Linked DNA regions of Homo sapiens. The protein of the gene in region 2 purifies or fractionates together with the protein of the main gene of each other region. This does not show direct contact. Each region holds a gene or a part of one and is shown on either strand. Other genes may lie near its edges. The genes, in order: SLC27A2, PPP6R2, AP1S2, ASPM, AP1G1, NFKBIE and AP1B1.

Region 1 (3,500 bases), on a different chromosome or scaffold from region 2:
GCATGTTTTCACAGTCAAATAGAAAACCCCTTTTATTGGGAGGCCGAGGCAGGCAGATCACGAGGTCAGGAGATCAAGACCATGCTGGCTAACATGGTGAAACCCCATCTCTACTAAAAGTACAAAAAATTAGCCAGGTGTGGTAGCGGGCACCTGTAGTCCCAGCTACTCAGGAGGCTGAAGCAGGAGAATGGCATGCATGAACCAGGGAGGCGGAGCTTGCAGTGAGCCGAGATTGCGCCACTGCACTCCAGCCTGGGCGACAGAGCGAGACTCTGTCTTAAAAAAAAAAAAAAAGAAAGAAAAAAAAAGAAAACCCCTTTTAGGGAGAAAAAAGAGAATGAGCATCCTCTGATTTAATCTCGTAAGTCAGAATTTATATTTAATTGGAAGACAATTAGAAGGGTGTTTATTTTACTTTTTTCATTTTCTCTGAATCAAATATTTGCTAGGCCAAGCACAGTGGCTCACATCTACAATCTCAGAACTTTGGGAGGCCAAGGCAGGAGGATTACTTGAGCCCAGGAGTTTGAGACCAGGCTGGGCAACATAGCGAGACCACATCTTTACAAAAACATTAAAAAATTAGCTGGCATAGTGGTACACCTTGTAGTCCTAGCTACTTGGGAGACTGAGGTGGGAGGATCACTTGAGCCCAGGAGTCTGAGGCTACAGTGACGTGCCACTACACCCCATGCTGGGTGACAGAGCAAGGCACTGTCTGTAGAAAAAAAATAGTGCTAAGTTACTCTTGTAAACATTAATTAAAAGAATTTGTTTAAACAGTTGGAGAATAAATGTTCCTGCTCCTCAAAGGAAGTCATTAGCACAAAATTATATAATAGTTACCAGATATTCTCATTTATTCATTAATACAAAATCTTAATTTAGGAAAGTTCTGAAAGTACTTCAAGGCAACAAAGATGAGCATTTCTTTTTAAAAATTTCAGAGGCCAGGCATGATGGCTCATATCTATAATCTCAACACTTTGGGGCCAAGATGGGAGGCTCACTTGAAGCCAAGAGTTCAACATCAGTCTGGGCAATAAAGCAAGACCTTGTCTCTACAAAAAATATAAATAAACAGCCAGGCATGGTGGTGCACACCTGTGGTCCCAGATACCTGGGGGGCTGAGACAGGAGGATCACTTGACCTGAGGCTGTGGTGAGCCTTGAACACCACTACACTCCAGCCTGGCAACAGAGTGAAAGCCTATCTCAAAAATAATAATAATAATAATAATAATACATAAAACAAAACAAAAAACTGGGCCATTGTCAAAGAAAATGAATTTTGAATTGTGTTTACAATAATGGTAGGTTGCTAGCCATATTTGTCTGCCTTGTAACAAGTTGCTGCTATTTGGGCACTATCTGGTGAAGGTACCACCAAGTATTGAAGAATCTGAGTCAACAGAGATCTGTCTTCCTCTTCACGAAGTCTGTTTACCCACTCAGATCTTAAACTCTTAGTCCCCTTCCCAGTGACTTCATGCCCTCCCCAATTGAACTGTTCTTCCATGGGAAACAACATAAGCATACACTTACAGAAGAAAATCTTACAAAAAACGTATATAAATTATGGTTAAGAAAGTGCAAGCGCATTTAGTCTAATGTACTAAAACTACACTGAGATACGGTTTTTCACCTTTCAGACTGGCAAAGGCCCCAACATTTAAGAGCACACATTGACAAGGCTAGGAGGAAACAGGCACACTCATGTATTGCTGATAGGAGAATGAATGGGGACAGCCCTTATAACTGGCAATGTGGAAGTTATCTATCAAAATTACAAAGACTCTTACTCTTTTTTTGAGACAGAAACTCATTCTGTTGCCCAGGCTGGAGTACAGTGGCAGGATCAGGGCTCACTGTAGCCTCAACCTCCTGGGCTCAGGCGATCATCCCACCCAAGTAGCTAGGACTACAGGTGCATACCGCCACACCCAGCTAATTTGTTTTACTTTTTGTAGAGGAGGGGTCTCACTATGTTGCCCAGACTGGTGCTGAACTCCTGGGCTCAAGCGATCCTCCTGCCTCAGCCTCCCAAATTGCTGGGATTACAGGACTGGCCAACTTTTATCTTTTGACACAACAATCTCACTTCAGTGAATTTATCCAAAAGATATGGTGTCATTCATAGTGTGAATTGCCACGTGGACGAGCTTCTTCACTGCAGCATCATTTATAACAGCAAATAGTATAAATAAATTATAATACACTTATAAAAGGACTTGAAGGAGCTGAGAAAGAGAATAAATAAATGAATAAATAAGGGAAATCTTTATGTACAAACATGAACAAATCTCCAGTAAACATTGTTAAGCAGCAGAGACAAAAAACATGCAAAAGAGTGTGCATATTTCTTTTTTTTTTTTGAGATGGAGTCTTGCTCTGTCACCCAGGCTGGAGTGCAGTGGCGCTATCTCGGCTCACTGCAACCTTTGCCTCCCAGGTTCATGCCATTCTCCTACCTCAGCCTCCTGAGTAGCTAGGACTATAGGCACCCACCACCACGCCCGGCTAATTTTTTGTATTTTTAGTAGAGACGGGGTTTCACCATGTTAGCCAGGATGGTCTTGATCTCCTGACCTTGTGATCCGCCCGCCTCAGCCTCCCAAAGTGTTAGGATTACAGGCGTGAGCCACCGCGCCTGGCCAAGTGTGCATATTTTTTAATGGAAAAGGCAAGAACATATAAGCAAATGTTCATATTTGCTTTGTTTGTATAAAATAACTCTAGTACGTAAGAAATCTCTCTGACTCTCAGCCTTCACATCTGTGGATTGGAGAATATAATTCTGTTTATGTCATATATAAACTTGTTATGGATTTTTAAAATGTCTTGCAAAGTGGTAGCCACAGGGCAGAAATTCAATGGACAGTCATTCCTCTGTTTCTGTTTCTCTTCAGATTACTACTGTCATAACCATCTAACTCAGGAGTTAGCAATCTATGGCTTGTGGGCCAAATACAGCCTCCCACCTGTTTTTGTAAATAAAGTTTTATTGGAACACAGCCACACTCCATTTATGTATGTGTATGGCTGCTTTTGACTACAATAGCAGAGTTCAGTTGTTGCAACAGAGATTGTATGACCCACAATCCCAAAACATTTACTCCCTGGTCCTTTATAGAAAACATTTGTCAACTCCTGGACTAACTGGTCATGGCCCTTCCCAGTGCAATTCTCAAAATACAGGGTGATGAATCTTCCTAAGCCAGATCTCTCTCCTACACTGTAAATGCCCAATCTTGGTTAACTCATGCCTTCTCTTGTATATTTACAAAGGTCTTCCAAAAGCAGCCATGATCACTCATCAGCGCATATGGTATGGAACTGGCCTCACTTTTGTAAGCGGATTGAAGGCAGATGATGTCATCTATATCACTCTGCCCTTTTACCACAGTGCTGCACTACTGATTGGCATTCACGGATGTATTGTGGCTGGTAAGCTTTTTCTACAAAATGTTGGAGGCGAGTGCACATTTACATTTTCC
Region 2 (3,500 bases):
GCATCAGAGTGGAAACCCTGCGACACACACACAAACACACACGGGAGCTGTGGGGACTTGTCGGAACAGTCCTTGGGGAAAACCTGCCAACCACACCTGTTCCACGCACATCGACAAATGCATCGCCAACTGGTCGTGACGAGCAGCTTCAGGCTGGAGAGGGAGCACCAGTGATGATGAGGGTCTAAGGGGACTTGGCCACAGCCATAAAGTCAAGCCTTCAACAAGGGGAATCTATCCATGTTGTTACTTGCATAATCAAAAATTAAAACCACAAATGACATAATCCAGACTGCTCGTGTGGGCTGCCATATCACTGAGGCGTCAAGTTCAGCTCTACACGATTTCTCCTCGTGAGACTCACCCAACCCGCCTGGTTTCCAGCAAGGTGAGTAACACCTGAGTCCCACTGACGAGGCAGCTCTCCGTCCGGTCTCCATCAAACATGTTCTTCAGAAGCTGCTCCACACAGTCCTGCCTGCTGGACACACACAGAGGTCACTGCCTGGCAGAGCAGACACACACACAAAGGATGCAAGGATGCTCCTTCCTCCCCGTGGAGGACCCCAGCAAAACCCTCAACCTGCTCAGGCTCAAGGCAAGGCGCCAGGGTTCTCAGGACACTCCTGCTGCTGCTGGCCCACTCTCTAGACCCACCAGGTGACTCCTCTGGAGACCCCTCCCTCTGGAAACAGGCCCCAAGTTAACATGGGCTCTGAACCTGGGGTTCATTCGAATGTGAATCAGAGGAGGTGGCAACATATCCTGGTGCTCAGAGCAAGGCTCACAGACGTCCCCATGACCCAGAAAGGGAGGCCCACCAGCACCACGGCCCACCAGCACTCACGACTCCAGCGCTGTGAGGAGCGGGTCTGGCTCCAGAGCCTCTTGCAGCTGACTGCCCTGGTCTCTGCCCAGCCTAACTATGTCACAGAGAGTCTGAGAAGCATTTGACTGCCTCTGAAAAGACAAGGGAAACACAGAGTCCCTCAGTGTGGAGAAGAAACAGCAGGACCAGCCCTGCTGGGCACACAGGGCACAAGTCCTGCTGCTTCTCTGGCAGATGCTAGACTTTCGTTGTTGTTCAATACCACTGTGATGTTCAAATACTTTTTCTTTTTTTTTAAGATGTGGGACTTTTGGCCAGGCACAATGGCTCAGGCCTGTAATCCTAGCACTTTGGGAGGCCAAGGCAGGCAGATCATCAGGTCAGGAGATCAAGACCATCCTGGCTAACACGGTGAAACCCCATCTCTACTAAAAATACAAAAAATTAGCCGGGCGTGGTGGCGGGTGCCTGTAGTCCCAGCTACTCGGTTGGCTGAGGGCAGGAGAATGGCTTGAACCTGGGAGAAGGAGCTTGCAGTGAGCCAAGATCGCACCACTGCACTCCAGCCTGGGTGACAGAGCGAGACTCCATCTCAAAAAAAAAAAGAAAAAGATGTGGGACTTTCTCTAAACCAGTTTCCTACAAAGAAAGATTCCAGACAACAGCTTCATTTCAAAGAAGCCTGTGTCTGCCTTTTCTGTCGTCAAAATGTAGATCTGGTTAGAGTTTTCTTTTTTTTAAAGCTGCATTGAACTATCTTCAGGAATTCAAAACAGGGCTAATAATGGTCAGATATGCAATGCAGATACTGGGCTATACCTGTGATCCACGTTTTGAAATATGCTGAATATGTGGCCATGTTACTGATACTATATTTTAAATGTGGTAATAAGTAGCTGCTATTATTCAGAATGAGTCCTGTAAGCTAATGAAAATAGGGAAGTTGCTACCAAGAAAACAGAGGACTCATCTTTTCTAGGGAAACATTAACACGCAATCCGTGATGGGAACGTGCCCCTGCTGACAATGTAGGGCTGTTCTGTAGGTAAGACAAATGTGATTAAGAGAGAAACAACCCCTGACTCCCTGCAGCATTGGTTCACATGCTGTGGGAAGACTGAGGGAAAGCAAACACTCACAGGAGTATTTTAGGGAGAAAAGAAAGCAGCCAGATTAGCTCTCAGGTCTGCCTTTGGGACCCAGGCCAGGCCATCAGCCCACAACACCCACATGCATGGGTGGGCTCCAGTTCTCAGGCAGGGCGGCCTCCTTGCTTCCTACAGACGCCAACATCAGGCAGGGCGGCCTCCTTGTTTCCTACAGACGCCAACGTGGCCTCTCCTGTCTGTCTGATCAGCCCTGTGGGCTGATGGAGAACAAAGTAGGGTGGTTGGCCAGGCAGCGGTGAAGGCCTCAGACACGAGTCAGCACCACTGTTTTCCAATCTGCCAAGGACACGTGGTTGTATGTATAGATCGGTATGTGTAATGCTAGGAAAAGGCCTACTGGGATATACCCCAAACTCTCAACAGGGATCACCACAGGGAGCCCCATTGTCACCTTAGGTGCTTCCAGGGTGGGTGGCTCCTAGGGGGCCCCTAGCAATCCCGTCCTGGAGTTCATGCCTTTATAGCCCCCATCTCTTTTAGTGTGGGCTGGACCCAGCCACCCAGGTCTAAAGAGCCAAATACATTAAGAGTGAGGGGAAAGCTCAGCTCCACGTTGTGTGCTGCCCTGTGGAGACGCCCATGTGGTGCAATGCTGAGGGCGGCCTCGGCCCACAGCCCTGAGGAACTGGATGCTGCCAAGCCATCTGTGACCATGGAGCTGGCCTCTACCCCAGTGGAGCTCTGAGATGACTGTATTTTGTGAGACTCAACAGAAGAGCCACTAAGCCACATTCAGACGCCTGATCCACAGAAACTGATACTGCTACAGGTAAAAATACTTGCCATAAGCAACTACATTTCAGGGTAATTTGCTATTCGGTCACAGACGACTGATACAATTCTATTAGAATTGTTCTTTGGTTTGCTTGTTTGTTGAGACAGAATCTCACTGTCGCCCAGGCTGGAGCACAGTGGTGTGATCTCGGCTCACTGCAAGCTCCCCTTCCTGGGTTCAAGTGATTCTTGTGCCTCAGCTTCCTGAGTGGCTGGGATTACAGGCACCTGACACCACACTTCGCTAATTTTTAGTAGAGACAGGGTTTCGCCACGTTGGCCAGGCTGGTCTCAAAACTCCTGACCTCAAGTGATCGGCCCGCCTCAGCCTCCCCAAGTGCTGGGATTACAGGCATGAGCCACCGCGCCTGTCCTATTTTTATAATACACATAGATTATTTTTCAGTTAAGAAAAAAAAGTGTAGGCCAGGCATGGTGGCTCACTCCTGTAACCACAGCACTTTAGGAGGCTGAGGTAGGAGGATCACTTGAGGCCAGGTTTTTGAGACCAGCCTGAGCAATGTAGTGAGACCTCATCTCTATTTAAACAACAACAACAACAAGAAGAAAACAGCCTAGAGGCTGGGTGTGGTGGCTCACCCGACTGGGTGAGCAGGAGAATTGCTTGAACCCAAGAGGCGGAGGTTGTGGTGAGCCGAGATTGCACCACTGCACTCCAGCCCAGGCAACAAGAGCGAAACGCCATCTCAAAAAAAAAAAGAAAAAAA
Region 3 (3,500 bases), on a different chromosome or scaffold from region 2:
GTAAAATATGCAAAAGCCTTAGCTAACATTTAATGTCTCATGTAGGGCGAGGATTCAGTGAATGGTACTTAATTATTATGTTTCTGTTTTTTTCCTGCCCTAAGCTTTCTGGAAAGAGGTACATTATTATCCTGATAGCTATCTGTTCACCTACACCAAAGAATTCATTAATTTGATTATTCTTTTTCCATTCCGAGTGAAAGTAAACATTACTGGCTGGGGCTTAGACACATTGTTTCTGATGATTTTTAAATTAATGCTTCCAAGTGATTCATGCAGTTTAGGACCTTTGACTAGTGTTTAAGTGCTTTTTATTTGTAAGTAAAGAGGCAGTACTGTGGATAAGGAGCGAGGATGGTACGAGCATTAGCTTGTTTAATAGTAGCATGAGGAAATCTTAAATAAAAGGAATTTTACTTGAAACTGTTAGTAAACTTTGTATAATAAATTATTTAGCATTCTGTTCCTATCAGCTAGTCATATCTGGTTTTTAATCTACCATTTTTATGTCAGTCCCTTTAATGTTTAGTTTTCTTAAATCAGGGAATCTTATGTGTCATTTATCAGTTTCCTCAAATTCAAAGTTCTATTTAATGAGCATGGGTTAGGGAGGATGGAGAGTTGGAATACTCTATTCTCTTTTAAATAGACAAACAAAAACAGTAACGATGGGAAAGAGAGGGAGCACTTTGTTAAAGTTGGCATTGATGCCCTGTTTTGTCTTCCATGACTTATTCCCTTCACAATGATGATAAATGAACACATGTGAATACCTCCTCTCAATAAGACTGCAGTAGCTCCACCATTTTAAATAACTTACTGAGTGTGGAAGTCAGGTAGAGTAGACATGCACAAACTCATGATATATATGCCAAGTGAGTTTGTATGATACAGTGGAAAAAGGCCTGGAGTTAAGGTCAAAAGATCAGGTTTCTTATCCCAGTACTAGCACTTGTAGGCGCTGTACTCTTAAGCCTCATTTTTTTTTTGTCTTTTTTTAATCTGTGATCAAGGATGAAAGATAGTACTTGCTGTTGAAAACATCAAATAAGATGAAATGGTTTTAATAATGAAATTAATGCTGTTGTGTGAATACTAGTTATTTTCATACTAAGGAGCAAGAATTCATTGAGTCTCAAAACAGGTTGTGTTATTCTGTATACAGTATTATTTTACATTAATGCTACGAGCAGTAACTGCCCATTGTGTTTTCTAAAAATCATTTAAGTGATCTTCAGTGAAAATTATAATCTCCACTGAAATGTTCTGTGTTTAGCCTATCTTAGGTTTTTATTTTCTTTCTTTTCAAAAGCCTTAAGTACATGTAAACCATTTTAAAATGCCCTTTTAATCCTCCTCAAAGGACTTGCTATGCCTCAGGGTTGAAGTTTTGCTTCCTTGGGTCAAGCATAACATGATTCCATATGCTAGAATCCTAATTTGAAGGAGAATATAAGTTTCCCAACCTTATTCCCTCTTCTAGGGTAAATAAACTACACTTCAGTTCAACAGTGTAGAACTTGGTAAATTTGAGAACAGGCCTCTGTTTCCCTTAAGTGATAGGAACTTTCTGTTCTCTTTCTCTAACTTCTGTAATAACGTGGAGCTGTTGTTCTTTTCGTATGGTTTATTCTGCAATCCTAGAAACCTTTTTAAAAACAATTCTATTCTGTTAGAAGTCAAGAGCATAGTTACCCTTGGGGGTGGGAGGTTGTGACTGGGAGAGGGTAGCAGAGGAGTTTCAGGGTTCAGTAGTGTTCAGCTTCTTGATGTGGGTGCTGATATATAGTTGAGTTCACTTTGAAAATTTATTGAGCTTGTAGGACTTAAGGTCTTCTCTGTGTATATATTATACATATTCCAATAAAATATCCCAAAATATTGACCTCACCTTGGCATTATCCTCAACAAGTCCTCCTTCAGTTGGAAGGTTTGTTTTCTTCTCTGTACTTACAGTTTGAATTAATCTGCTATATATTTTGTTTTAATTAAGTAAACTTAGGAAAAACCTGGGTCTGCTATGTTTTAAAATGCTTATAGAAAAGAACCTGAAAGGAAGAAGGGCAAAATCACTTATTCTAAGTGGTATGATTATTTTGATTTTTTCTTTATACTTGCCTATGCTTTTCAAAATTTCTGTTATGCGTTTATTACTTTTGTAGTCTATGAGAAAAATCTGTACTGTCGTGAAAGAAGAAATAAACTGTATAAACTTGGGGCTTTTCATAATAGGATATGAAAATATATTTAGAAAACATCATTATAGGATAACAGTTTTTTTCACATTTGTACTTTGTTACAGATATGCTAGTCTGTATTTTTGCTGTGCTATTGAGGATCAGGACAATGAACTAATTACCCTGGAAATAATTCATCGTTATGTGGAATTACTTGACAAGTATTTCGGCAGTGTGAGTAGTATTTTATTTTAGGAAATTGAATGCCATAGTATATTTTGGAACCTTTTCTCTAACAAGTTTATTTTTTGGTTGTCTTGGGGATTCTAACCGCGGGAGAGGGTGGGAATGACTATTTATTAGTAGAAATTATTAAGTTGTCCATATTGGGAACATGCAGAGCCCAGTCTTATTTAGCTTGTAGGAATATGTTTTCAAGTACTTGAGATTTGGAAATTAAGCTTACTTAAACCAGTGATACTTAGTCATTTTTAGAAAGAGTTAAGATTGATTCACTCTAGTTCGATTTTATTCACTACCTGATAGTGAATAAGCATCTTCTGCTTCTGCAAGTTTTAACAATTTTTTCTTTTCTTTTTTCTTTTTTTTTTCCTTTTCAGGTCTGTGAACTAGATATCATCTTTAATTTTGAGAAGGCTTATTTTATTTTGGATGAGTTTCTTTTGGGAGGGGAAGTTCAGGAAACATCCAAGAAAAATGTCCTTAAAGCAATTGAGCAGGCTGATCTACTGCAGGAGGTAAGCTACTTATTCTCTTCACTAGGCACTAGCATGTTTTGCTCTTGCTGGGGAAGTCTCATTCATCATTCTTACAGTTTCAGAAAGTACTCTGAAGCATGCTTGTCATGTAGTGTCCATCCATGTGCAGTTTATTGACTGGAATATGTGTCAGTCACGTCAACTCAGTTATCTATGGATGGATGGTTCAGTTTGGAGATGGTCTATCGGTCAGGCCTCTTCCCAATGGCCCTTTTTGGACCCTAAAACACTGGAGTCTAAACCTTTAGAGGACAGACTATTTGAAGAAGGGAAAAGATTGGCTGAAAGTAGCAGTAAGTTGAGAACTCTCCATCTATTGCTTCAAATTGTTTAAGATAACCCCCTTTTTCATTAGTGTAGATAATCAGGAGTTGACTATGAGATTATGACATTTTAATTCCAAATTGGCTCATATTTTTACCTCATGTCCATTAAATGCAAAAGTAGCCAAGCAAATGATAGTGTTTTCTAATTATACTTTTTGTAGAAACTTCCAGGTTTTTTTTGTTAGCAAAACTAAACAGTATTTGCATTTCTCTTTGCT
Region 4 (3,500 bases), on a different chromosome or scaffold from region 2:
TGCATATTCTCAGCACCTCGTAGAGAGTCTGGAATATACAGACACAATAAGTTTTGGTTGAATCTAGACTTTAGCCTCTGTAAACACAAAATAAATTGTGGTTTATGGTCTGTGACTTCTGGATGTTGGTTTGATAAACCACTGAATTCATAGCATTAGTGCGTGGAGTACAGTGGTTATTAAGTGTTTGCTAAATGAATATGATTGTGAAGAACCCAAACTTTAACTTTCAAATCACTGACCTATTTAGGGAATTTGTATTTTAATGCTCTTAGTTTTGTTTTCTAATTTATTTTAGATTTATCAATATTCAGAACTCCAATTTCTAAAACAAACAAAAGGACAAAACCCATTATCGCTGTGGCACAGTCCAGTTTGACCTTCATAAAACCATTAAAAACAGGCAAGTATTTATTATACTTAAACTCTCTGAAAACATGACATCGAATGAAGCATTAATTGCATTTCACATGGAAATGAATTGATTTTTGTTGTTGAATAACAGCCTGGAAGAATTGTTAAAGTGTGTATTAAAATGACAGGATATTGTGTCAACTTTCTGTTTGATAAAAGAAATAAAGACCAAATGTTCAATAGATCAGTAGGGTCACTATAGTAATTATTGTATATTTCAAAATAGCTAGAAGAGAATAACTGATGTTTCTAGCATAAAGAAAAGACAGATATTTGGACTGCGGGCACCCACGACCATGCCCGGCTAATTTTTTTGTATTTTTAGTGGAGACGGGGTTTCACCGTGTTGGCCGGGGTGGTCGGGCAATCTCCTGACCTCGTGATCCCTCCCCTCGCCTCCCAGGGTGCTGGGATTTCAGGCGTGAGCCACCGCGCCCGGCCAAAAACATGGGCTGTTATCCTTTGCTGTGGTAGGGAGTATGGATGAAGTGAAAGTTGGTAAAAGGATGGTCAGAGGCCGTCACTAGCCTTGGGGAGTTTTCCAAGTGGAAAATGAAAATCACTGTGACTTCGTTAAGCTCCAAGATATGCTTCTTTGTACCAATGTGGAAAATCTAAAAGAAAAACCTACACTCAGCACTATGAATGCTGTAGGTACCAAAAACTGCAGAAAATGGGCTTTACAGATCTGGGCCCAGACAACCAGCCAGTTAGTTTTCAAGAAATCTTTGAAGCCAAAAGACAAGAGTGCTATGATCAATGTCAGAGAGAAGAAGAGTTGAAACAGATTTATGCAGCGAGTCAAGGAGAAAGAAGCTGAAAAAGAGCTGCAGGACAAGTTCAAGCATCTTAAAATGATTCAACAGGAGGAGATAAGGAAGCTCGAAGAAGAGAAAAAACAACTGGAAGGAGAAATAATAGATTTTTTATAAAATGAAGGCTGCTTCTGAGGCACTGCAGACTCAGCTGAGCACCAATACAAAGAAAGACAAACATCGTAAGAAATAATCGTTTCTCTTAATTTTCTGTTTGAGAGCCCTATCATTCACATCCCAGCTTCCTGTGATTGTATTTGTAGCATTTAAATCTGATTGAAGTTCTTATTTTAAAAATTGGCTTGCTTATTGTATATTTTCCCTAACTAAAGTGTGAACTCCTAGTGGGGCGTGGTGGCTCATGCCTGTGATCCCAGCACTTTGGGAGGCTGAGGCAGGTGGACCATCTGAGGTCAGGAGTTCAAGACCAGCCTGACCAGGATGATGAGGCCCTGTCTCTGCTGGGAATACAAGAGTTGGCTGGGCTTGGTGGCCGGTACCTGTGGTCCCAGCTGCTTGGGAGGCTGGGAGAGTCACTTGGGCCCCAGAGGTGGAGGTTGCAGCGAGCCAGGTTCTTGCCATTGCACTCCAGCCTGGGCGACAAGGGCGGGACTCCATCTCAAGAAATAAAAAGGTGTGAACTCCCTGAAGACAGGTCCTGTGTCCATCTTTTCAGATTCTGTATCCTGGCACTTAGGATGTAGACTAACACGAAGATGACATTCAATCAATATTTGCCAAAATGAAAAAATAAACATGTAACATCATGTTAAAGGAGCAGTTTAGGTGGAGAAATTTCTTTACCATAGTCCTGCTTGTGGATCCAGTAGTGACTTTTACATTTTATATCTAAATAGAAGCTTGAGGCTTTGTTGGGGACTCATAGGCATAAAATATTATGTTATACAAATCTAATTAATAGGCCTATTTTCCTTTTTAAATTCTAATAATTTCTTGATAGTTTTTATTATGATAAAAGATTGGATTTTGATTAGAACTCTCATGCTTTTATGTCAGACTTAAAACTGATATTAGAATAAAGAATTCAAAAGCTAGAGAAAATCAGAGTACAATGAGAAGCCATGAGTTGCATTTGAATGATAATATTATGTCTTACAGATTTGGGGTATACGCTAAAGTTATCAAAGTTGTAAAAATAAGGCTGGGTGCAGTGGCTTACACCTGTGGTCCCAGCACTTTGGGAGGCCAAAGTGGGCGGATCACTTGAGGTCAGGAGTTTGTGACCTGCCCGGCTGGCATGGTGAAACCCCATCCCTACTGATAATGCAGAAGTTGGCTGGGCATGATGGTGTGCACCTGTAGTCCCTGCTACTCGAAAGGCTGAGGCGGGAGAGTCGCTTATACCCAGGAGGCAGAGGTGCAGTGAACAGAGATTGTGCCACTGCACTCCAGCATGAGTGACAGAGCGCTATGAGTCACTACACCTGGTATGAGCCACCATGCCCGGCCTACGATGACTTTTATACATGTTGTTAAATCATCTTACAGATTTTATAATTTGGGGGAAGAAAAATTTTACTAAATGGTCTTTTAATGGAAACTACAAGAACCAGAATCTTTGCTTTGTTCACTTAAGTGTCCATTCCTAGGCCTAGAACAATGTCTGACACATAGCGGCAATTATTCCTTGAATAAATGGACCCAGCAATAGTACATTAGCTATGCTATATGCATAAATTAAAAATGTAGATTATTGACTTTCAAAAAATAATTAATGTGACTTCTTACTGCTTCTGAACATGTTTGTGAGTTATATTGCTGAGGGACCTTTATCTTCTCATTCTTTCATCTTAATCCAATGTTATTAAAATTGAAATCACCAATATTATTCCATATCTAAAAATAATATCTACCTTATAAAAATTATCACTCTGCTGCATTTGAGAATAGACTTTTTAGGTAATAATAGTATGATCCATAGGGTTTTTTTAGGGCACAGAAGGATTCATGCTAACAGAACATTTTATTTTCTATTTTCCCAGAGCTATAAAACATGATATTATATGATAACTATAAGGCATATTTTTACTCTGTTCATATTTTTTCTAAAAAAAATTAGTGTTTGTTTCCCATATAACTTTTAATTTTATAAGTAAATATTTGTCTCTTTCAGCTCCAGTTTTATGTGAAATAGAGTTTCCAGATTTATGTAGCATGGAGAGTTTTAATAAGTCAGAGTTACTGATTTTTGCCAGTCATTTTCTCAGTTGTTAACTTCTTTTATCTTTAGTTGATTTTTTTTGTAGTGAC
Region 5 (3,500 bases), on a different chromosome or scaffold from region 2:
GTGCTCTATTTGTAATAGAAACTTCCAAGGCTCTTCCAGCTCCCCTTTCTCGCCATTCTTTAGCTGTAGTCATGAATAGTCTCCATGATTTTCAAAATTGATTCCCTTTAAAGTGCAAAATGGTCACCTTCTAAAAGATATATTCATAGTTATTAATGACCCTATTCCCACCACAAATTTTAAAGTGCTCCTAAGCCCATAACTTGCCTGTTTGAACTATGGTAATGGGTGGAAGAGGAGTTCACCAGTTTCAAAGATCAGACTCTGTATCAAAAGTACCTTTGCCCTTAGGAAGAGTGAGTATTGGAGTCATCTTATCTATTACTCCAAACCTCCCTTTTTATTTCTTGAGCCTGGCTTGGACCTTGGCATTCCGTTTGAATTCCTTCTAACTGGAACATTTGTGTTGTATCTGTAACACTGGCACTGAAATAAAGACCACACGGTTAAAGAAATCTTTCCATATTGTACTTTATGGTGTTGGAGTGAAGCCTTGTAGCTTCCATACCCCTATGTCAGAGGAGGTCTTACGGACACCATAGGGTAGGAATAGCCTTTCCTCAGTCTGAGAAATTGGTCTCTTTTAAAAGACGAATCTCATGAATATTCACATCAAAGACTTGAGCTTTTTAAACTAGTGAGAGTGCCAAGTGCTTTTTAGAAAGGACCCATATGTTATCAAACTTTGAAATTGAGTTGCTGGAATGAAGTAGAGGTGACTCTCTCTGTGGTACACATTGAATGTACTATGTATGTTCAAGTATTCAGGCGCCATGTCTTATATACTGAAGAAAGAAAAAGTGAGGCCCACCTTGCTCTTACAATGTTTGCAATTGTTACTGTATTGAATACAGTATAATGACTACTATGGCTTCAATCTTAAACCTGGAAACAAATATCCCTTTTTTTCCCCTTCATTTCACCAAGCCTTTACTTAAAATCTTCAGTGTCTTGTCAAATCTAGCTCTGTATCAGATGCTGGAATATTCCTAACATTTGACAAACTGGAGTTGAACTAAAGGCTCCACGGGAAAGTTTCTGGTCTTACTAGTGTGTATGAGCAAGATCTGCTAAAACTTACTCCACTGGGTAAATGGTTGACTGAGTCAAGAACAGGATAATATCTCCTGCATAGTTTTCAGTAATGTAAGTGTGGACTAGTGCATATTTCAGACAACTGCTCTGCCTGTGCAATGAAAAATAGCCTTTAAGGGTTTCTTTGCAGACTGATTTCATTGGATGGATACTTAATGCTGTGAAACATGATAGGATTAACATAATGTTGGTGGATTTCTTGAATAGAATTTGTCTTAACATTCCTCTTTGTGTAGAGGCTTTATTTTCTCTCTTATATTTGTAGCTAACCAGCTCAGGTTTTTTTATTTGAACTGGGTTGAATCTCTGAAGAAATCTGTTCAAGACCATGCTATAAGACACTGTCAGCTAATGGAGCTGGGAAGGGTCTACTCTGCTGACAGAGCATTTCCTTGGGTGATCATAGTTTCGAGGTAGAGTTTATGATCATTCATAGCTTTGTCTAGAAGGAGTAAAATATCATGGCCTTAACACAAAGGGTGCTGCGTAGAATATGAATTGATTTTGGAATCAGAACACAAGCACCATACTGAAGGACTAGCAGCCAAATAACTGCCTAGGATACTGATGGTTGTGAAGACTGTTTCAAATGATTGGATCTTTGAAAGCTTCAGCGTGCCTTAGTTTCTAGGATCAGAATTAGTTTTCCTCTCACTTGGCCTTGCAGCTAAATGGAGAAATGTTTCAATTTCTTTGAATACTTGCACATTTCAATAATTCCTTTCCCGAGTATAACCACTCAAGGGGGAGCAAATTTGGATGGATTTACGACTTCACAGGCATTGTGAGGAAAGAGCATTTTCCAAGGCTGTTTTGATAACCCTGGGGTGATAAGCAGTGAGCCCTCACACACTTACTTTGACAATTTCACATGCACTTGTACTTCATTATTTCCCTCTTCAAGAGTCGTTTCTATTCTAGTTTCTGCCCCATCCCGGGGAATCCTAAAGGAGAATTAATTCATCTAAGTAATCTCAAAAAACTGTAGGAAGGGTGCTCTCCCTGAGAAGCTTCTCCCACAGTGCTTTGGTGCTGTTACCTTGAGGTGGTTTGGACAGTCACGGAAGTTTTAGGCTGTGCATAGTGATCATCTGTTAATTTTAAGGTCTTTATCATTTAAAGAAACATTCCTCAGTGTAACATTTGGGAGGGGATTCTTTCCTCTTGCTAGTTTAAAGGTGTGATTTGTACTCCTTGTTTGTCCCATTCATATATGAAAATAGACTTTTAAAACTGTCCAACACTAATGGTTTATATAACATGCTTCCCATTTTTTTTATGTCGTAGAAATTGGAAGTTAGGGAGTACTGCTTTCAAGGTTCAACTTCATTATCTTCTGCATTGGAAAATATTTGGGCCATGAGAACTAGGGGAAAGGAGTTTGAATGTGTCTATTTTTTTCTAGTGAATGTATTTTAACCACAGTGTCCTAAACTGAGAAAACTAGAGAGGAAAAAGTGGGTGTTCATGAACTTTGTAGTTGGGAGAGTGGTTTTACATGTCTGTGTATTCATGACTTTGGGAGTGGGTAGGATCATTGGAGAGAGAATTGCACAGAAAGTCCTGAAGTTTAAAACACTTTTGACCAGCTTTGGCTCGGGAGAGTGGGGCTGCTTGTAGAACTGGAAGTGAATAACTTTTTCAAGCAATATCAGTGAGTGGGTCCCATCGACAGGGTTCCAGGACCTGGAACACTTTAACAGAAGGAAATGCCGAAGCAGCTTGCACAGTTGCTTTACAGACTTCCAAGAGGCTGATTCTGGCTTCAAGATGGAGCCTTGGAGTTGGTTTTTTTTTTTTTTTTTTTCTTCCCTCAAAGAACCTGCGGTTGCGCTTTGTGTGTTTTGTTTTTGTTTTCCATTTGGGGGCCCCATGGGAAAGAGCTTCTGAACTCTTTCCTTTATGAACTCCCACTGTGTTCCTATAAAGGCCCTTTTCTTTCTTAGTGTTGTAAGTTACATTTTCATTATGCCCCATCACATCTTCTTTACTGTAAAAATATTAAAAAGCTGTTTCCAAGTGGGACAGCTAATGAAGCTCTAATTATTGCAGACATATTTTTGAGATGTAAAAAAAAAAATTTAAAGTTAAATGATAAGTCTTAGAGGCGAGTGAGGAATAAAATGGATGTAAACATTTACATGGGATGCATTAGAATTCTGCTGTGTGTACTGTCTTTTGGTTGAAACAAATTATGAACAGTGACTAATAATAAAAAGTCAATACCCAATGATTTAAAATTTGCTTCCTTGCTTCTTACAATTGGATTAGAAGACTTAGATGAATTCTTATTCCAGAGGTTGAGCTAACTTACTGACCTGTTAGTATTCCTTTCACACATAAGTCTCACCAAGAGAGGAATTTGAATCACTTAAAAACTTGTAGCCAGGCGCGGTGGCTCACGC
Region 6 (2,443 bases), on a different chromosome or scaffold from region 2:
CGAGAGAATGTTATGCCCAGATACCTGTTTGTGCCCTGGCAGCCATTCCCAGCAGCCATACCAGTCCAAAGGCTGCTCACTTAGGAAACCATATGCCAGACACTGAGCTAGAAACTGAGGAGACAGACCCAAGTAAGACATGGCCTCTGTCCTGAGGTGCTTGCATCCTGGGCTGGGGGACTTGTATCAACAGCTAAATACACAGCCTGGTGACAAGAGTTGTGATAGAGACACATACCAGCTGCTATAGGGTCCAGTGTCTGTGTGCAGCAGCCAGGGAAGGCTTACAGAGGAGATGCCATCTGAATGGAGCCTAACAGAGAGTTTTGCCAGGGAGAGACTGCCCGGTGCCTCTATCTTTCCTCCTGCAGCCTAACCCCTGGGGGTAACAGAGGTCTCCTCACAGGGTGAGGGGCTAGACTCTCCTCCTACATGTCCTTTCTCCAGGGCCTAAGGTGACTTACAAGAAAAGCAGAGAGCTACTTTCTTCACCTTGCTTCCAGAATTGGGATCCCAAGAGCTTGGTGGGGGAGGGGTGTGACAGGGGAAGGGCTCGGTAGTATTTCCTTGGAAGAACAGGTTATGGCCTTTATAAGCTGCTTTCAAAGAAGATGCTGGCAGCTGGTGATTCTTGAGCCCAAGCATGTTCCCAGAGGTGGGAGCATGCTGCAGTGGCCCCATGACCCTCTATTTGTGCCTCCAGACAGCACTCCATCTGGCTGTACATCTGGACCAACCGGGCGCAGTTCGGGCACTGGTGCTGAAGGGGGCCAGCCGGGCACTACAGGACCGGCATGGTGACACAGCCCTTCATGTGGCCTGCCAGCGCCAGCACTTGGCCTGTGCCCGCTGCCTGCTGGAAGGGCGGCCAGAGCCAGGCAGAGGAACATCTCACTCTCTGGACCTCCAGCTGCAAAACTGGCAAGGTGTGGACAGTCTTTAAGACTGCCCTTAGGGCCTGTGGGATGAGGAGGGCATAGGAGATAGGGACCTCACTCTTGGGGAAGGGAGGGTCCCAGCTTGTCCATTGGTGCCCCTCCCACTGTAAGCACATAGATATTCAGTACATCTTTGCCAAATGAATGAATGGATGATTTGATTTCGAATTTAACCAGTACCTACTGCCTGCTGAGAAGAAAACTAAATCTTGCCCTTAAGATACTTAGTTTAATAGAGATTAGATGACCTGATTCATTCATTCAACAGAAATGTACTGAGGGTTTTCTATGTGCCAGACGTTATCCTAGGAGCTACACTTGCATCTGTGTGCAAAATAGAGAAAGATTGAGATGAGCAATAAATGTAAGAAGTGAACTATGTAATATGTTAAAAGGAAGTAAGTGCTGTAGTAAAAAGCAGAGCAGAGTGAGAGGAAGGAATGTGGGGAGTAGGAGAGTTGATATGATTGTTAAATAGGGTGGTCCGGGAAGGCCTCATGGAGCCAGTGACATCTGAATAGCGCCCTGAGGAAGGTGAAGAATGTAAATTTGAATCGAAATCTCTATTACTAAGCAAGGGTCGGGAGTGTCCAGACTAGAAAGGAGAGCAAAAAGGCCAGGGGAGCACAGAAGGAAGCGGCCCCTGAGAAAGGGCTGGGGGCATGAGGATCTTAGGTGGCTTTTCAGAAAAGGTGGCTTTCAGACTGGGCTTGAAGGCAGGTTGTGTGTGTGTGTGTGTGTGTGTGTGTGTGTCTGTATGTGTGTGTGTGTGTGTGTGTGTGTGTGTTGTAGTTTGTGTATAGGAGGAGGGTGTTCTTTGGGGGTGTCACTCAGCAGCCTGACCCCTGAAGCATGAAAGTTTCAATAACATGACTCTGAAAAGGTGGAAACTTTGAGTTCCTTTCCCCTTAGACTTTTGAGGGGGTTTTGGGGTTTGCATTTTAACAGTCTTGTGATTAGAGACATTGAGTGGGCTGTGAGTCCCTTGGGGCTGAGTGGTAGGGAGGTCCCAGAAGAGAGGGAGTTGGTGGATGCAGATCAGCAGCCCTCACCCTCACTCTCACCCCATCCCAGGTCTGGCTTGTCTCCACATTGCCACCCTTCAGAAGAACCAACCACTCATGGAATTGCTGCTTCGGAATGGAGCTGACATTGATGTGCAGGTGAGACAGCCAGCAAAGCACTGCCCGGCCCAGGGCCTGCCCCCACCTGACACATCCCCAAGTCCCCTGCCCAGCAGTCAGAAGTGGTGGCATTCACTTCCTTATCCAGAGCCCAGGCCCAGCACACTGCCTCTGAGGGCCTTGGCTGACATCCTTATTCCTCCCCAGGAGGGCACCAGTGGTAAGACAGCGCTGCACCTGGCTGTGGAAACCCAAGAGCGGGGCCTGGTACAGTTCCTGCTCCAGGCTGGTGCCCAGGTAGATGCCCGCATGCTGAACGGGTGCACACCCCTGCACCTGGCAGCTGGCCGGGGTCTCATGGGCATCTCATCCACTCTGTGC
Region 7 (3,500 bases), about 21 Mb from region 2:
GCAACAACAACAAAAAAGATAGTACATGTAGGAAAGGTATTTTTTTTTTGTTTCTTTTTTTAAGCATCAGAGGTATCACGCTGAAGGGAAGTTATCTTTGAAATGAGATCATCTAAGCTGAGATTTGAAGGATAAATTGGAGCAGTTAGGAGAGGATAATCCAAGCAGAAGGATCAGCAAGGGTAGAGATAGTGAAGAGTTGGCTGTTAGAGGAACAAAGAAGGCATGTGGGCCTGGAGGCAAGGACCTGGTACTTATATCCTGTGCCAGAGCCCCCCACCTTCTGCAGCTCTGTCACTCTGAGCTGATACCTATGGGAGCAGGTGAGAGTGACTTGGCCTCACTGAACGTTTCTCCCACTGGAGATGTTGCCACCTGATCTTCTACCCTTGCCATTTCTTCTCTCTCTCATAATTTATTCACTTAACTTCCATTTATTGGCTGTAAATGTGCTAGGGGTCTGGCATGTTCAATTTCAGTATAGTTAGAATAGCTTGACAATCAGAGCAGATGTATCTCTGATCCTGGATAACCCCGTGAATGGAACATGGAGAAGCTGCTCTAGCAGAGGTTGGTTTACAAAACATGAAATTTGCCCAAGAAGAGAGTTGAGCACTGGTCATTCAGCTACTTATTGAACACCTGTTTGCCAGGTACCAGCCTAGGAGTCAGGAATATGATAGTGAACAAAATGGACAAAATCCTTACCCCCATTTACATTAGGGAATTTATAGGGGGAGAAAGAATAGACAACGTAAGTATATTTTATAGTGTGTAGGTAATAGGTAATAAGTACTTTGAAGGGAAAAAGGGCAAAGAGGGTTAGGAAGTGGTGGGGATTATGGGGGAGGGGTATACAATTTTAAATAAAATGGTCAAAGAAGGCCTCAATGAGAAGATGACATTTGAGCCAAGACCTAAAGAGGTGAGGGACTGAGCCATGAGGCTGTCTGGAGAAAGAGCCTTCCTAGCAAAGTGAATAGCACGGGCAAAGGCCCTGGGGTGGATGCATGTTGTGTTCGAGGATCAGTAAAGAGGCCTGTGCGGCTGGAGCTGAGGGAATGATGGGGAGAAGAGTTCAAAGGGTAATGGCCAGCAGGGTGCATGCGTGAGAGAGGAGGGGCATGCATCTCTTATAGGACCTGTGGGCTATGAGGCCATGGTAGGGACTTTGGCTTTTACTATGAGTAAGACAGAGAACCGTTGGAAGACGTTGAGCAGAGGGGTGCTACTGTCTGATTTGGACTGTAAGAGGATCATCCTGGCTGTTGCTGAGATGGGGTGTCAGCAAAGCAGTGTGGGAGCAGCTTTGTTAGCACTCTAAATGGAAGGTGATGCTGGCTTGGAGCTGGGGTTAGTGATGGAGCTAGTGAGAAGCTGCTCATGGATTCTAGATTCATTTTGAAGGTCGGAATCCAATAGGATTTGCCGATAGATTTAAAGGAGAGTATGTTGTTAAGAGTGACTCAGGTTTTTAGCCTGAGGCCCTCTTAAAGATGGTGCTGGCAGGAACTAGATGATGTAGACTGCAGGGTGAGCCAGTTGGGGAAAGGAAGGAAGCAGGAGGTCAGTTTTTATCCCATTGTTTGAGCTGCCTGCTAGTCATCTCCACAGTAATGTGGAGATGTCAGTTACACAGTTTGGACATGTGTGCCCGGGGGTTCTGGGGAGAGGTTGGGCTATGTGGATGGTATGTAAAGCTGTGATACCGGATGATCCACCAAAGAGGCAAAATAGCATAGATGGGGAAGAGAAGAGGTACCAGGCCTGAGCCCTGGGGCACACAGTGTTGAAGGAGAAGGAGAGGAACAAGCAAAGGAGACTGAGAAGGCGCAGACAGTGGCGTAGGAGGGCAGGCAGAGAGCATGGCATCCTAGCATTTGAGGGAAGACAGGTTTTCAGGAAGGAGGGAGTGATCAGTAGTGTCAAATGCTTATCAGCATGAGACTTGTCATTTGACATGACCATTGTGTCTTCTCCTGGCAGGACCCAACACACCTGGCATCCAGAACCATTTCTGAATCTCATTCTTCCTTCCCTAGCCTCGTCTGCTCCTTTCCCTTCCAGGTCCTTTCCTTCAGCCAGGCAGCGGGGCTCACAGACTTCTTGTTTTGGCCTTAGGTAAATCACTCATCTCTCAGTGTCTCTAATTCCTTGTTTTTTAACTGAATTACCCTGAGAATTAAATGAGAAGGGTTGTAAATCACTTAGCAAGAAGCCGTTCCCCAGCTAGTGTTGATTTAATTGTTGTCAGTTCCCTCCGTTGTCACATTGGCAATTTCGTGGTGCATCTCTTTGCCACCTCCACTCTTGCCTCTCTAAATCTGACCTGTCTTTTTGCGTCAGCCAAGCCCCTCTTCATCTAAGAGAACTTCCCTTGCTGCTCCACCTATCTCAGAACCCTCCTCCTCTGGAGGCATGATCACTCTGCCGTTCCCCTGCAGTCCTTTACCTGGCCTCTAAATCTGTAAGAGCTCAGTGAGAAAAGACTGTCCTTTGTTTACTGTGTGCATGCTTCCGTGTGGGGCACAGTTCCAGGCATGGAGCGGATGGTGCTCTACACTGTTAATTTGACAGATCTTCAGAAAGTGTTCCCATTACATAGATGGGAAAACCGAGATCACAAAGAGCGTTGTTCTGTAGTCTCTGGCCTCTTTCTCCTCATCTCGATTAATTTAAGTATTGTTCAGAAGAAGCCTTACTTACTTTATTTTCAAGTCCAGAGGAACTTTTTCTTTTTTTGAGATGGAGTCTTGCTCTGTCACCCAGGCCAGAGTGCAGTGGTGCGATTTCAGGTTCAAGCAATTCTCCTGCCTGAGACTCCTGAGTAGTTGGGACTATAGGTGCGAGCCACCATGTCCAGCTAATTTTTGTATTTTTAGTAGAGATAGGTTTCGCCATGTTGGCCAAGCTGGTCTCGAACTCCTCACCTCAAGTGATCTGCCCACCTCGGTCTCCTAAAGTGCTGGGATTACAGGCATGAGCCACTGCGCCCATCACTTTTTTTTCTTCACAGCAGATCTTTCCGCACATTACGGCTTATAGATCAGTTCAGAACTGGTACCTGATTCTAGAATGGAGTTCTAGAGACTCAAAGCCAATATAAGAACGTTTGCATGTGACATTTGTCTGCCTTTAGTTCCTTTTCATTCTGAAGTCTTTAATTGCTAGTGGGCCTCAGGAAACTGACTTTTTTTTTTTTTTTTTTTTGTGGGACGGAGTCTTGCTCTGTTGCCCAGGCTGGAGTGCAGTGACACGATCTCAGCTCACTGCAAGCTCCGCCTCCTGAGTTCACACCATTCTCCTGCCTCAGCCTCCCGAGTAGCTGGGACTACAGGCACCCGCCACCAGGCCCAGCTAATTTTTTGTATTTTTAGTAGAGATGGGGTTTCACCGTGTTAGCCAGGATGGTCTCGATTTCCTGACCTCATGATCCGCCCGCCTCGGCCTCCCAAAGTGCTGGGATTACAGGCGTGAGCCACTGCGCCCGGCCTTTTTTT

Evidence for each region.
Region 1: the proteins of PPP6R2 (region 2) and SLC27A2 purify together in Homo sapiens (affinity purification with mass spectrometry; 2 studies listed by BioGRID and IntAct, with this or other methods). This does not show direct contact.
Region 3: the proteins of PPP6R2 (region 2) and AP1S2 purify together in Homo sapiens (affinity purification with mass spectrometry; 2 studies listed by BioGRID and IntAct, with this or other methods). This does not show direct contact.
Region 4: the proteins of PPP6R2 (region 2) and ASPM purify together in Homo sapiens (affinity purification with mass spectrometry; 2 studies listed by BioGRID and IntAct, with this or other methods). This does not show direct contact.
Region 5: the proteins of PPP6R2 (region 2) and AP1G1 purify together in Homo sapiens (affinity purification with mass spectrometry; 2 studies listed by BioGRID and IntAct, with this or other methods). This does not show direct contact.
Region 6: the proteins of PPP6R2 (region 2) and NFKBIE purify together in Homo sapiens (co-immunoprecipitation; 2 studies listed by IntAct, with this or other methods). This does not show direct contact.
Region 7: the proteins of PPP6R2 (region 2) and AP1B1 purify together in Homo sapiens (affinity purification with mass spectrometry; 2 studies listed by BioGRID and IntAct, with this or other methods). This does not show direct contact.

What each region holds. Positions count from the first base shown.
Region 1 is NC_000015.10:50,199,196-50,202,695, forward strand, and holds part of SLC27A2 (long-chain fatty acid transport protein 2), read left to right. Parts: intron 1-3,291; coding exon 3,292-3,450; intron 3,451-3,500. UniProt on the Homo sapiens protein: Mediates the import of long-chain fatty acids (LCFA) into the cell by facilitating their transport across cell membranes, playing an important role in hepatic fatty acid uptake.
Region 2 is NC_000022.11:50,416,327-50,419,826, reverse strand, and holds part of PPP6R2 (serine/threonine-protein phosphatase 6 regulatory subunit 2), read right to left. Parts: intron 961-3,500; coding exon 848-960; exon of another isoform or gene 838-847; intron 482-837; coding exon of another isoform or gene 479-481; coding exon 365-478; intron 1-364. UniProt on the Homo sapiens protein: Regulatory subunit of protein phosphatase 6 (PP6). May function as a scaffolding PP6 subunit. Involved in the PP6-mediated dephosphorylation of NFKBIE opposing its degradation in response to TNF-alpha.
Region 3 is NC_000023.11:15,844,814-15,848,313, reverse strand, and holds part of AP1S2 (AP-1 complex subunit sigma-2), read left to right. Parts: intron 1-2,302; coding exon 2,303-2,411; intron 2,412-2,797; coding exon 2,798-2,935; intron 2,936-3,500. UniProt on the Homo sapiens protein: Subunit of clathrin-associated adaptor protein complex 1 that plays a role in protein sorting in the late-Golgi/trans-Golgi network (TGN) and/or endosomes.
Region 4 is NC_000001.11:197,136,670-197,140,169, reverse strand, and holds part of ASPM (abnormal spindle-like microcephaly-associated protein), read left to right. Parts: intron 1-298; coding exon 299-403; intron 404-862; exon of another isoform or gene 863-1,622; intron 1,623-3,500. UniProt on the Homo sapiens protein: Involved in mitotic spindle regulation and coordination of mitotic processes.
Region 5 is NC_000016.10:71,728,835-71,732,334, reverse strand, and holds the end of AP1G1 (AP-1 complex subunit gamma-1), read left to right. Parts: 3' UTR 1-3,335; downstream 3,336-3,500. UniProt on the Homo sapiens protein: Subunit of clathrin-associated adaptor protein complex 1 that plays a role in protein sorting in the late-Golgi/trans-Golgi network (TGN) and/or endosomes.
Region 6 is NC_000006.12:44,260,109-44,262,551, reverse strand, and holds part of NFKBIE (NF-kappa-B inhibitor epsilon), read left to right. Parts: intron 1-703; coding exon 704-926; intron 927-2,012; coding exon 2,013-2,101; intron 2,102-2,269; coding exon 2,270-2,443. UniProt on the Homo sapiens protein: Sequesters NF-kappa-B transcription factor complexes in the cytoplasm, thereby inhibiting their activity. Sequestered complexes include NFKB1-RELA (p50-p65) and NFKB1-REL (p50-c-Rel) complexes.
Region 7 is NC_000022.11:29,378,571-29,382,070, reverse strand, and holds part of AP1B1 (AP-1 complex subunit beta-1), read left to right. Parts: intron 1-3,500. UniProt on the Homo sapiens protein: Subunit of clathrin-associated adaptor protein complex 1 that plays a role in protein sorting in the late-Golgi/trans-Golgi network (TGN) and/or endosomes.